Homo sapiens: one gene and its partner. The protein of the gene in region 1 interacts with the protein of each later gene in a biochemical or structural test. Each region holds a gene or a part of one and is shown on either strand. Other genes may lie near its edges. The genes, in order: U2AF1 and CIRSR.

What was found.
Region 2: the proteins of U2AF1 (region 1) and CIRSR form a complex in vitro, tested with the Homo sapiens proteins (one study listed by BioGRID).

The regions. Positions count from the first base shown.
Region 1 is NC_000021.9:43,092,307-43,097,712, reverse strand, and holds the end of U2AF1 (splicing factor U2AF 35 kDa subunit), read left to right. Parts: intron 1-1,969; coding exon 1,970-2,019; intron 2,020-2,176; coding exon 2,177-2,275; intron 2,276-2,924; coding exon 2,925-3,058; intron 3,059-3,149; coding exon 3,150-3,242; intron 3,243-4,463; coding exon 4,464-4,611; 3' UTR 4,612-4,757; downstream 4,758-5,406. UniProt on the Homo sapiens protein: Plays a critical role in both constitutive and enhancer-dependent splicing by mediating protein-protein interactions and protein-RNA interactions required for accurate 3'-splice site selection. Recruits U2 snRNP to the branch point.
Region 2 is NC_000002.12:174,385,640-174,392,930, reverse strand, and holds part of CIRSR (corepressor interacting with RBPJ 1), read left to right. Parts: intron 1-5,151; coding exon 5,152-5,246; intron 5,247-7,291. UniProt on the Homo sapiens protein: May modulate splice site selection during alternative splicing of pre-mRNAs. Regulates transcription and acts as corepressor for RBPJ. Recruits RBPJ to the Sin3-histone deacetylase complex (HDAC). Required for RBPJ-mediated repression of transcription.

The DNA of each region.
Region 1 (5,406 bases):
TCTACTAAAACTACAAAAATTAGCCAAGATCACGCCATTGCACTCCAGCCTGGAGACAGTGAGACGCCGTCTCAAAAAAAAAAAAAAAAAAGATAAAAAGAGTTTTGAGCAAGCTCAAAGACCCGTGTGCCAGCAGTCAGATGCCCACGTTGGGTGCACAGGCTAAGGCAGCCGGCCCAATCTGGAAACCAGTCAGGCTTTTGCCAGCCCCTAATCTAGCTGATTGGAACATGTTTGTTGATACACCAGCTCTGTGATTTCTCAGGTTTAGAGAACTCTAGAATTTGATAGAGTGGGCCGGGGGCAGTGGCTCATGCCTGTAATCTCAGCACTTTGGGAGGCTGAGGTAAGCAGATCACGTGAGGTCAGGAGGTTGAGACCAGCCTGGCCAACATGGTGAAACCCCGTCTCTACTAAAAATACAAAAATTAGCCAGGCATGGTGGTGCGCGCCTGTAGTCCCACCTACTTGGGAGGCTGAGGAAGGAGAATTGCTTGAACCTAGGAAGTGGAGGTTGCAGTGAGCCAAGATCACGCCACTGCACTCCAGCCTGGAGTGGACAGAGACTCCATCTCAAAAGAAAAAAAAATTAATTAAATTTGATAGAATGATGATGGGGATAGAGTGTAAATTTGCCAAATTTACCCACGCAACAGACATGATTTTACCTAATACATGTGAATTATGAAGAATAAACTGATGAAAATAGTTTGGGAATATAAAACTTAAGAATACTTGCGCCGGGCACGGCGGCTCACACCTGTAATCCCAGCACTTTGGGAGGCCGAGGCAGGTGGATCACGAGGTCAGGAGTTCAAGACTAGCCTGGCCAAGATGGTGAAACCCCATCTCTATTAAAAATACAAAAATTAGCCGGGCGTGGTTGTGGGCGCCTGTAATCCCAGCTACTCAGGAGGCTGAGGCAGAGAATCGCATGAGCCCAGGAAGCGGAGGTTGCAGTGAGCCGAGATTGCGCCACCGCACTCCAGCCTGGGCGACAGAGTGAGACTCCGTCTCAAAAAAAAGAAAAAAAAAAGAATGCTTTCATCAGCAAAACATTGTAACATTCCCTTTACTTGAGGGCGTCCACAATACCGTAAGGTTGCGTGAACTGTCCTACTGAATCTTCATGGTTGCTTGGATTTTAATCACATCAGAAGAATTTGAGAGCATACCATGGCTGGCAGTCCATAAAAGACTAGTTAGGAACATCAGCTTTTAATCATCGACCCTGCTTTCAGGTTTCATTTTAAACTTATAGAAGAGGGGAAGACATCAGTGTGCTTATTTGGCCTTTACTCTAAATCTTAAAAGGAAGAAAATTTTAATATTTCTTAGTTTGAGCCCAGGTGCGGTGTCTCACGCCTGTAATCACAGCACTTTGGGAGGCCAAGGCAGGCGGATCACTTGAGGTCAGGAGTTCAAGACCAGCCTGCCAACGTGGTGAAACCCTGTCTGTACTAAAAATTAAAAAAAAAAAAAAAAATTAGCCGGGCGTGGTGGCAGTCGCCTGTAGTCCCAGCAACTCCAGAGGCTGAGACAGGAGAATCGCTTGAACCCCAGAGGTGGAGGTTGCAGTGAGCTGAGATGGTGCCACTGCACTCCAGCCTGGGCGACAGAGCCAGACTGCATCTTGTGGGTGTAAAAAAAAAATTTGTAGTTTGAGAGTCAACTTTTTCCTCACAGTTTCTGAAAATGTGGCCCTTTTGATGCTGATTAAAGCTGGTTGTGATTTTAACACCTTAGTAGCCAGAATCGAGACTGTCATGGGGACATTTAAAATCTCACCACACTTGACACCATTCACAAGTAGCCATGTGGCTCAGTCTCCTGAGTGCTCCTGCAGAGTGCAGCTCTGCCAGGCTTTTCTCTAGATAATCTCGTGTGTGTTACTGTAGCAGTTTGAGTTTAAACACAAGAGTTCACTCGGTTAACATGTTCTAACCAGCAAGATTTCTGTTGTTTGCAGGTGCCGTGAGCGATGTGGAGATGCAGGAACACTATGATGAGTTTTTTGAGGTGAGAGAACTGAACTCTGTGACTGATAGACCTGTTGATCTTCTGTATCTGTTTGGAAGGATTTAAAATGTTTCTCTGCTAATAAACATACATGAGTTATATCTAATGACACTTTGTAATGTATAACGAGTCTTAAACCACTGTGGTCTCCCTTCAGGAGGTTTTTACAGAAATGGAGGAGAAGTATGGGGAAGTAGAGGAGATGAACGTCTGTGACAACCTGGGAGACCACCTGGTGGGGAACGTGTACGTCAAGGTAGGAGCCAGGGCGAGACGGCGGCGTGGCCGCTTAGTGTGCCAGGGCCAAGGCCAACAGGCGAAAGCGAGACAGTGGTGCAGCCGCTTAGTGTGCCGGGGCCAAGGCCGACAGAGGATGGGGTGCCTGTCGCCATGCACCTTGAGATCCTGGATGCTCAGGCGCACAGCAGGGCTCAGGTGCACTGGCTCGGCGCCTACCAGCTGCGTCATATGTGGCGGTGGCCAGCCCACACGTGCGCCCAGCCAGCAGAACTGAAGGACGGACCGTACACCACAGCCATCGTTATTTCAGTGTAGAATATTTAGTACCTGTTGGTTTAGAAGCTGTGTGGACTAAGGAAAAGTTAGGTTTACTCACATGTTTGGTTTCTTTTTTCTTTTTTAGTGAATAAAACTTTATTTGCCTACACAGCCATATTTGCTCCTTTAACCAGTTGAATTTGAAAAATGAAGGCAACATTTGGCAAAATCTTGGACTATCTTGAAGTTAATCTCATTGAAAATAAAGGATTTTTCAATTATCCTGTAATACTATTCCACCTTACTATACCTGAGTGTGTATATCTCTCTCTGATATACTTGGATTGGTAATTGAGAAAGTCTTATTAAAGCGTGGATGGCAAGCACTTCTGTTTTTGTCTTTTCAGTTTCGCCGTGAGGAAGATGCGGAAAAGGCTGTGATTGACTTGAATAACCGTTGGTTTAATGGACAGCCGATCCACGCCGAGCTGTCACCCGTGACGGACTTCAGAGAAGCCTGCTGCCGTCAGTATGAGATGGGGTGAGTGAGGAGTGGCCAGTGACGTGACTGAGCACAGTTCGGGGCCGTGTGCACACGAGGTAGTAAATGTCTCCTTCCAACCCACCCACAGAGAATGCACACGAGGCGGCTTCTGCAACTTCATGCATTTGAAGCCCATTTCCAGAGAGCTGCGGCGGGAGCTGTATGGCCGCCGTCGCAAGAAGTGAGTATTCCTGTGCCCGTTGTTAAGCTCAGTGGCTTCTTTCTCCCCTCACAACCCTCCCCCTTCCAAAAAAAAAATTTTGGCATAGGTGTCGTTTCTGTTTTTTAAAAGGCAGTGCTTAGAACATAGTACATATTTTTAAATATCCAAATGTCCTCTTTGGAGAAGAATATTCACCTGCACACAGGTAACTTCATTATCCAACTTCTCAAGTAGAGATCAGATCTTAGTAATCAAGCAAGAGGGCGGTTAGCTGGGCAGCCGCGGACATGAGGCTCGTGGTGAAAGTGGGCATGCAGTTTATTCTCCCAGATATTACGAAGAAGAAGAATAGATGTTGTAACCTCCTTTAGATCAGGGATGGCTTCCCTGGGACACATTGGAAGAAGAATTGTCTTGGGTCACAAATAAAATACACTAATGATAGCTGATAACTTTTTTTTTAATTGCAAAAAAAATCTCATAATGTTTTAAGCAAGTTGATGAATTTGTGTTGGGCTGCAGGTTGGACAAGCTTTTGCTTTACATATTTCACATGTCCACTGGGGTTTCTTTTGGTTTTGCTTGTTGGTTTTAGGGCATTTCATTATGTCTTGGGATCGCTGGCATCCTCCCTTCGGGACACTGGCAGAATCAGGCCCAGCGGTCACATCTCTCTGATCCTACATTTAAATGTACGACAGGTCACAGAGCAGAGAAAATCAAGACGTCAGAATCGAACCGATTGAGTTCTGAGTCTGGAGAGGTTCTCATCCCTCTTCTGTTAAACATGGACTAGTAAATAGATGGGTGGCGATTGTTTTATTGTCAGCATTCAAGAAGCATAAGAGAAAAACAGGCCTGCTCTCCCCAGCCCAAAAACCTGATGGACACAGTAGCTATGAGCGCCTGAAGCGTGGGGTCAGTGAGGGTTGAAGATGGTATGTGTCCAGCTCATTTTGATTATGATTTCCTGTGACCATTTGAGTTGGTTCTAGAAGAAGACAGAAGATGCAAGGTATTACACCTGTTCACTTCTAAGTTGCACATTTTTTTCTCCTGAAACTTTTCACACCTGAAATCAGGGTGTGTCTCAGTCACGGCGTGCAGTCTCTTCAGCAGTGTTTTTCCTTATCAGTGCCGTTGGCTTGAGGAGCTGCGCGTGTTGAGAGAGTGGGTGTGGTTCTGTGCTGCGTGCCGTGGTTTGGATGGCACGGTTTTCTTTATTTTCCTTGGTTGCAGGCATAGATCAAGATCCCGATCCCGGGAGCGTCGTTCTCGGTCTAGAGACCGTGGTCGTGGCGGTGGCGGTGGCGGTGGTGGAGGTGGCGGCGGACGGGAGCGTGACAGGAGGCGGTCGAGAGATCGTGAAAGATCTGGGCGATTCTGAGCCATGCCATTTTTACCTTATGTCTGCTAGAAAGTGTTGTAGTTGATTGACCAAACCAGTTCATAAGGGGAATTTTTTTTAAAAAACAACAAAAAAAAAAACATACAAAGATGGGTTTCTGAATAAAATTTGTAGTGATAACAGTATTCTTGGTGTAACTTATTTCTTGTGGAAGTTCTTTAAATTTCTTTTTCTTTATAAATCTGCTAGTCATCTTGGAGGTAAAGATTAATATCCATCCACCACTTTGAGTATAAATGAAATAATATTTTTTATCTTAGGGCATGAAATAAAACACATACCAGGTGAGATCTACATGCTAAATAATCCGGAATTTCTCGAGGCTGTCATGGAAAGCCTTTTGGGGTTTCTTTTCTAACTGGTTAGTGAAGAAGTGCTTAGCTATAATCAGTAGACACGCTGTAGACTGCACTGATGTTGGGAAGAAGGCTGATCTGTGGTGAGACACAGTGGGTGGGCCCGACCCATGTTACCTTCTCGTTCCTGCGAGTTTGTGTCAAGAACCCCATGTGTTCGTGGGAGGGAGCGTGGATGCTCACACGGCACACTGAGGGCCAGTAGTCCGTGTCCGTGTTTCCTTATGCCAATGGCTGTGGGAGACACAGAAGCCTGCGGTGCAGATCCGCCTTTAGACACTCTGGTATTACTTTCCCCAAGCTACTCGGGTGGCGCGTGCTGGTGGTGTGACTATGGTGACAGCCAGCTGACCGGTCTGGGGCACCTGCCACAAGTCAGTGCTGGGGGCTGAGCATTTCATTCCTAAGACCAAAACGT
Region 2 (7,291 bases), on another chromosome or scaffold:
TAACTAGCCTGTTTACTCATGACTCAAATCTGCAGTCCCAGTTTTCTCTTCTTAACTTTGATGTGGCTCAAGACAGCTATCTACTAGACATTTGCATCTTGATGTCCTATAGGCACCTCAAACTCAACATATCTGATATAAAAGTTTTTTACCCCAAATCAGCCCTTTTTATACTTGCTATCTCATATGGGTAGAAATATAGATAGTAAAACAGTCCCTCATCCTGTTGCCCAAACCAGAAGCTCAGGATTCATCCCTTTTCCCATCACTCCTTTATCTAGTCAATCACTGAATGCTATTGGTCTTACCTTCCAAATATCTCTTGAATCCATCTTTCCTTTCTGTCACTGCTGCTTGTGTCTTAATTCAGACCCTCATCATCTTTCACCTATATTGTTGCATTTCCTAAGTGGTTCTACTGCCTCCAATCTTGAGTCCTCTCAAATCCATTCACTACACAGCCATCAGAATAGTCATTTTTCATTTTAACAGCTCTGCTGAGATAAATTTACATATCATACAAACACCCATGTAAAATGTACAATTTAGTGGTTTTTAAAATGTATTCATGGAGTTAAGTAATCATTACCACAAACAATTTTAGAACTTTGTCATCACCCCAAAAAGAAACCCCCGCTGGGCATGGTGGCTCACACCTGTAATCTCTGCACTTTGGGTGGCTGAGGTGGGTGGATCACCCGAGGTCAGGAATTCAAGACAGCCTGGCCAACATGGTGAAACCCTGTCTCTACTAAAAGTACAAAAATTAGCTGGGTGTGGTGGCGGGCGCTTGTAATCCCAGCTACTTGGGAGGCTGAGGTGGGAGAATCGCATGAACCCGGGAGGCGGAGATTGCAGTGAGCCAAGATTGCGCCACTGCACTCCAGCCTGGGTGACAGTGAGACACTGACTCAAAAAAAAAGAAACCTGCATACCTGTTAGTCACTCCCATTTTTCCTTAACTCTTCTCCCTCTCTCCAGCCCTAGGCAAGCACTAATCTACTTTCTGTTAGTGGATTTGCCTATTCTGGAAATTCATTTAAATGGAATCATGCAATCTGTGGTCTTTTTTGACTGGCTACTCTCACCATAATGTTTTTGAAGTTTATCCATGGTATGGCATGTATTGGTACTTTTTCCTTTTTATTGCTAAATAATATTCCATTGTATGAATGTAAGTTATTTCGATAGAATTGTCTTTTTTTAAGCACAAATCTGATCTCTTTCAGCCTGTTATTAAAATATTACAGGATTGAGTCCAAGTAATCTCACTCCATCGTTTTTCTCCTTCTCCCCTCCTACTATTCTCCCACCTCAGATTTATTTATTTATTTATTTTTTGAGATGGAGGCTCACTCTGTTGCCCAGGCTAGAGTGCAGTGATGCAGTCTCAGCTCACTGAAGCCTCTACCTCCCAGGCTTAGGTGATTCTCCTGCCTCAGCTTTCCGAGTAGCTGGGATTACAGATACACACCACCACGCCTGGCTAATTTTTGTATTTTTAGTAGAGATGGAGTTTCACCATGTTGGCCAGGCTGGTCTCAGACTCCTGACTTAAGGTGATCTGCCCACCTCAGCCCAACCTAAGATTTTATATGTTAGTAATATTGAACTACTTACGTTCTATTTTATATCTCTGGGCCTTTGCCTGAGTCATTCTCTCTGCCAGTTATATCTTGCCCTGTTTTTTTCCTTGGCCATGCCTTGATCCTTTTCAAAACCCTGTCAAATGTGTGTGAAATTACCTGTGTATTGAGTTCTTGCAGCAAAATTTTTAATAGCAAAATACTGGAAATTTCTTAAGTGCCCATTTATACAGTATGAGATAAATAAATTATAAATTATGGTATAGTCCCACAATATGCAACTTTACCACCCAAAAGAAGAAAGTGTTTGTTTACTGATCCATATTAGTCTTGTATTAGTATTAGTCTGTTCTCATGCTGCTATGAAGAAATACCTGAGACTGGGTAATTTATAAGGAAAGAATTTTAATTGACTTGCAGTTCTGCAGGGCTGGGGAGGCCTCAGGAAACTTAAAATCATGGCAGAAGGGGAAGCAAACACGTCTTTCTTCACATGGTGACAGCAAGGAGAAATGCCGAGCAAAAGAGGAAAAGCTCCTTTTCTGATGGTTTTATCCATCAAATTTCCTGAGAACTCACTCACTATCACGAAAACACCATGGAGGTAACAGCCCCTTTTATTCAGTTACCTCCCATCGGGTTCCTCCCACGATACGCGGGGATTATGGGAACTACAATTCAAGATGAGATTGGGTGGGGACACAGCCAAACCATACCATTCCACCCCAGCCCCTTCCAGATCTCATGTCCTCACATTTCAAAACACAATCCTGCCCTTAACAACCAAAGTCTTAACTCATTCCAGCATTAACTCAAATGTCTAAGTCCAAAGTCTCATGTAAGACAAGGCAAGTCCCTTCCACCTATGAGCCTGTAAAATCAAAAGCAAGTTAATGACTTCCTGGATACAACAGGAGTACAGGCATTGGGTAAATACACCCATCCCCAATGGGACAATTTGGACAAAACAAAGGGGCTACAGGCCCCATGCAAGTCCAAAATCCAATAGGGCAGTCATTAAACCTTAAAGTGCCAAAAGGATCTCCTTTGACTTCATGTCTCATATCCAGGGTGTGCTGATGCAAGAGGTAGGCTCCCAAAGCCTTGGGCAGCTCTGCCCCTGTGGCTTTGCAGGGTATAACCCCTCTCCTGGATGCTTTCATGGGCTGGTGTTGAGTGTCTGTGGCTTTTCCAGGCACATGGTACAAGTTGGTGGATCTACTATACTGGGGTCTGGAGGACAGAGGCCCTCTTCTCGCAGCTCCACTAGGCAGTACCCCAGTAGGGACTCTGTGTGGGGGCTCCGACCCCACATTTCCCTTCCGCACTGCCCTAGTAGAGGTTCTCCAAGAGGGTTCCACCCCTGCAGCAAACATCTGCCTGAACATCCAGGTGTTTCCATACATCTTCTGAAATCTAGGCAGAGGTTCCCAAACCTCAGTTCTTGCCTTCTGCGCACGTGTAGGCCCAACATCACATGGAAGCTGCCAAGGTTTGGGGCTTGCATTCTCTGAAGCAGTGGCCATAGCTGGAGTGGCTGGAATGCAGGGCACGAAGACCAAAGGTTGTACCCAGCAGTTGAGAGGCTGGACCCGGCCCAGGAAACCACTTTTTTCCTTCTCCTAGGCCTCCAGGCCTATGATGGGAGGGGCTGCTGTGAAGGTCTCTGACATACCCTGGAGACATTTTCCCTTGTCTTGGTGATTAACATTCGACTTCTCATTATTTATGCAAATTTCTGCAGCCGGCTTGAATTTCTCCCCAGAAAATAGGGTTTTCTTCTCTATTCCATTGTCAGGCTGCAGAATTTCCAGAATTTTATGCTGTGCTTCCTCTTGAATGCTTTACTGCTTAGAAATTTCTTCTACCGGATACCTTAAGTCATCTCTCTCAAGTTCAAAGTTCCACAGATCTCTGGGGCAGAGGCAAAATGCCACCAGTTTCTTTGCCTAGCAAGAGAGACTTTTACTCCACTTCCCAAAAGGTTTCCCATCTCCATCTGAGACCACCTCATCCTGGACTTCATTGTCCATATTACTATCAGCATTTTGGTTAAAGCCATTCAACAAGTCTCTAGGAAGTTCCATACTTTCCCACATCTTCCTGTTTTCTGAGCACTCCAATTCTCTAGGAAGTTCCAGAGTTTCCCACATTTTCCTGTTCCAACCTCCACCTGTTACCCAGTTCTAAAGTCACTTCCACATTTTCGGGTATCCTTTTAGCAGCCCTCCATTCTACCTATACCAATTTACTATATTAGTCTATTCTCACGCTGCTATGAAGAAATGACCAAGACTGAGTAATTTATAAAGGCAAGAGGTTTAATTGACAGGAAACTTACAATCATGGCAGAAGGGGAAGCAAACATGTCCTTCCTCACATGGTAGCAGTGAGGAGAAGTGCTGAGCAAAAGAGGAAAAACCCCTTATAAAACCATCAGATCTTGTGAGAACTCACCCACTGTCATGAGAACAGCATGAAGTGTAACCGCCCCCATGATTCAATTACATCCCACCGGGTCCCTCCCATGACACATGGGGATTATGGGAACTATGATTCAAGATGAGATTTGTGTGGGGACACAGCCAAACCATATCAGATCTCCATGATATATAATTTTATTTTATATATATTTTGTGTGCGTGTGTGTGTTTGCGTAAAATATGTTACCATTTATATAAGAAGAATGTGGTATATGTTCTTTTGCATATATATATATATTAGAACATCTTGGAAGGATATATAAGAAATGTATAACATTGACTACCTATGAATATAGTTAATATAATTTAAACTATAAATACAGCTTTGAAAAAACCCAAACTTGCTATAAAGCATTCTGTGGACTGGGCACAGTGGCTTACGCCTGTAATCCCAGCACTTGGGGAGGCTGAGGCAGGCGGATTGCCTGAGGTCAGGAGTTCAAGACCAGCCTGGCCAACATAGCGAAACCCCTTCTCTACTAAAAATACAAAAAAATTAGTTTGGTGTGGTGGCAGGGTCCTGTAATCCCAGCTACTCCGGAGGCTGAGGCAGGAAAATCACTTCAACCTGGGAGGAAGAGGTTGCAGTGAGCCAAGATCATGCCATTGCACTCCAGTCTGGGTGATAGCCAGACTTCGTCTCAAAAATAAAAAGAACTCGTATCAAGACACTTCAGATTTTTCAGGTGTTAATTTGTAATGATGTAATTGCGGCCAAATTGGATTATGTTGTAAACTTTCAGCCAAGTTTATCCAGCTCTTGGCCTGTGGGTCACATGTGGCCCAGGACGGCTTTGAATGTGGCCCAACACAAATTTGTAAACTTTCTTAAAACATTATGAGATTTTTTTGCCCTTTTCTTTTTTTTAGCTCGTTGGCTATCGTTAGTATATTTTGTGTGGCCCAAGACAATTCTTCTTCTTCCACTGTGTATTAGTGTGTTTTCTGTGGCCCAGGGAAGCCAAAAGATTGGGCACTCCTGCTTTAAACAATTGCATTTTATATTTTATTATACAAGAAAAGCAAAGTTTGTTTAATTTAAATCCAACAATTTAATTTGCATTTTTACTTCACTAATCTAGGTATGGATGGCAGAACAGAAAATATCATATGATAAGAAGAAACAAGAAGAATTGATGCAGCAATATCTTAAAGAACAAGAATCATATGATAATAGGTAAGAAATTCTGTTATGCCAGTATATCTAGAATTATCAATTTCATGGGAATAATTTCCTACTGAATGATATATTAAGTCAGTTTTTTGGAATCAAATACCCAATTATAGGATTCGTGTCTTTCCGTGAGGGCTATCTCTTTTACTCTCATACCTGTAGATGACCACTTTTTCCAGCTTTACCCATAATTCACGTAAAATATAGATTCACGTGACTCATATACAGTCTTTGAGCAAGTCTCAAATTAGGCAAAGCTTAGAAGAACAATCATGTCTACACTTGAACTGCTGAGACCTCTTACAGACTTATTTCTTTAACACAAAAGATACCCAGCATACTTTCAAGAGGAAAGGTAAAGTGACTTTATTTGACACGCATGTCATTGTTCTGTTAAAAGCTGTTTCGTGGCTAGAGTTCTTCATTGGTGTCTTCTAACATGGTACCTGCCTTTAACTATTGTGTTTGTATATGCAGATCTAACACTGAAGCTGGTTTCTCTTGGTTAATCTTAAGCCACTGAATAGTGGTGTTTTGGTAAATTGCCCATGAAGTTCAGTTTTCAATCAAAATATGGAATTTAGCAAACTAATACTAAACTATTACTACTCTTTAAAATATAATATATTGAGAGGAAAGTTAAAGAAATAAAAGTTAAGTAGCTTTCTCACTAATTTTATTTAATCTTAGTAACTTTTATTGAGTACTCCATGCATGGCAATAAGTGGTATTATAGGGACCTATAAAAGTGTGTGAAGTGTAGTTTATCCTTAAGAAACCCTAGTAAGAGATACAAATACATATAGTTGAAGGCCAAATATAATAACTGATATATTAAAAACATACACTGCTTTTAAAAATACAGCATGTTAGTATAGGAAATAATAATTCCATTTAGGTTAACAGAAGACTTTATGGAAGAGGTGACATTTAAGCTGAACTCTGAAGAATGATAAGGATTTAGATAGGTGGTTCTCAACTGAGCGCCGTTTTTTGCGCCCTCCCTGCCACCCTGCCCAGGGAACGTGGCAATGTTTGGAGACATTGTTTTGATTGTCACAACTGCGGACTGGGGTGCTATCAACATCTAGTGGGTGGAGACTATGGATGCCGCAAAACAGCCTACAATGCACAGGACAGCTCCACACAACAAAGAACTATCTAGTTCAAAATGTCAATAGCATCACTGTTTAAAAACCCTAATTTGGTCGGGCGCAGTGGCTCATGCCTGTAATCCCAGCACTTTGGGAGGCCAAGGCGGGCAGATCACCTGAAGTCGGGAGTTCGAGACCAGCCTGACCAACATGGAGAAACCCCGTTTCTACTAAGAAATACAAAGTTAGCCAAACCTGGTAGTGCATGCCTGTAATCCCAGCTACTCAGGAGGCTGAGGCAGGAGAATTGCTTGCACCTGGGAGGCAGAAGTTGTGCTAAGCCAAGATCACGCCACTGAACTCCAGCGTGGCCAACAAGAGCGAAACTCCGTCTCAGATAAACAACAACAACAAAAACCTTATTTTTATATTATTAATAGTAAAAACATATTGGAAAATGGAGAGGGTATTCAGGAAACAGTTGTTGAGTTAGAGGGATAAAAACAGAGTGGAGGTGAAAAACTAGGTTTGAAACAGATCACAGTGTTCATGTTTATTCTTTATCTTTAAAAAAAGTTACTATTTTCCCTTTTAATTAATATTTGAAGCCCTGCAAATACCCTGTTTCTCCTTGGACTTTTGCCTAATTTTGGTATTCATCAGTAGATCTTGCTTGCATCAATTATATATTTCTGTGATGTTCTAATGGTTATTTTCTATTTCTATCATTCCCTCTACATTTATTAATTTGAATTCCTCTGTAAGGAAGAATTTCCCTTATCTAGTTACTATTAATTTTCTATCAATATGGACTCATGGCTGTTTATTTAATTCTTTGGATTATAATATAATACTATTGTTACTTATTTTCTTGCTCCAGTTGTTTCAGTTTGGGCCATTGAGAGCTCTGTTAGATTGGCTCGTATATCCATTTAACATGCACCAACCCTGTTT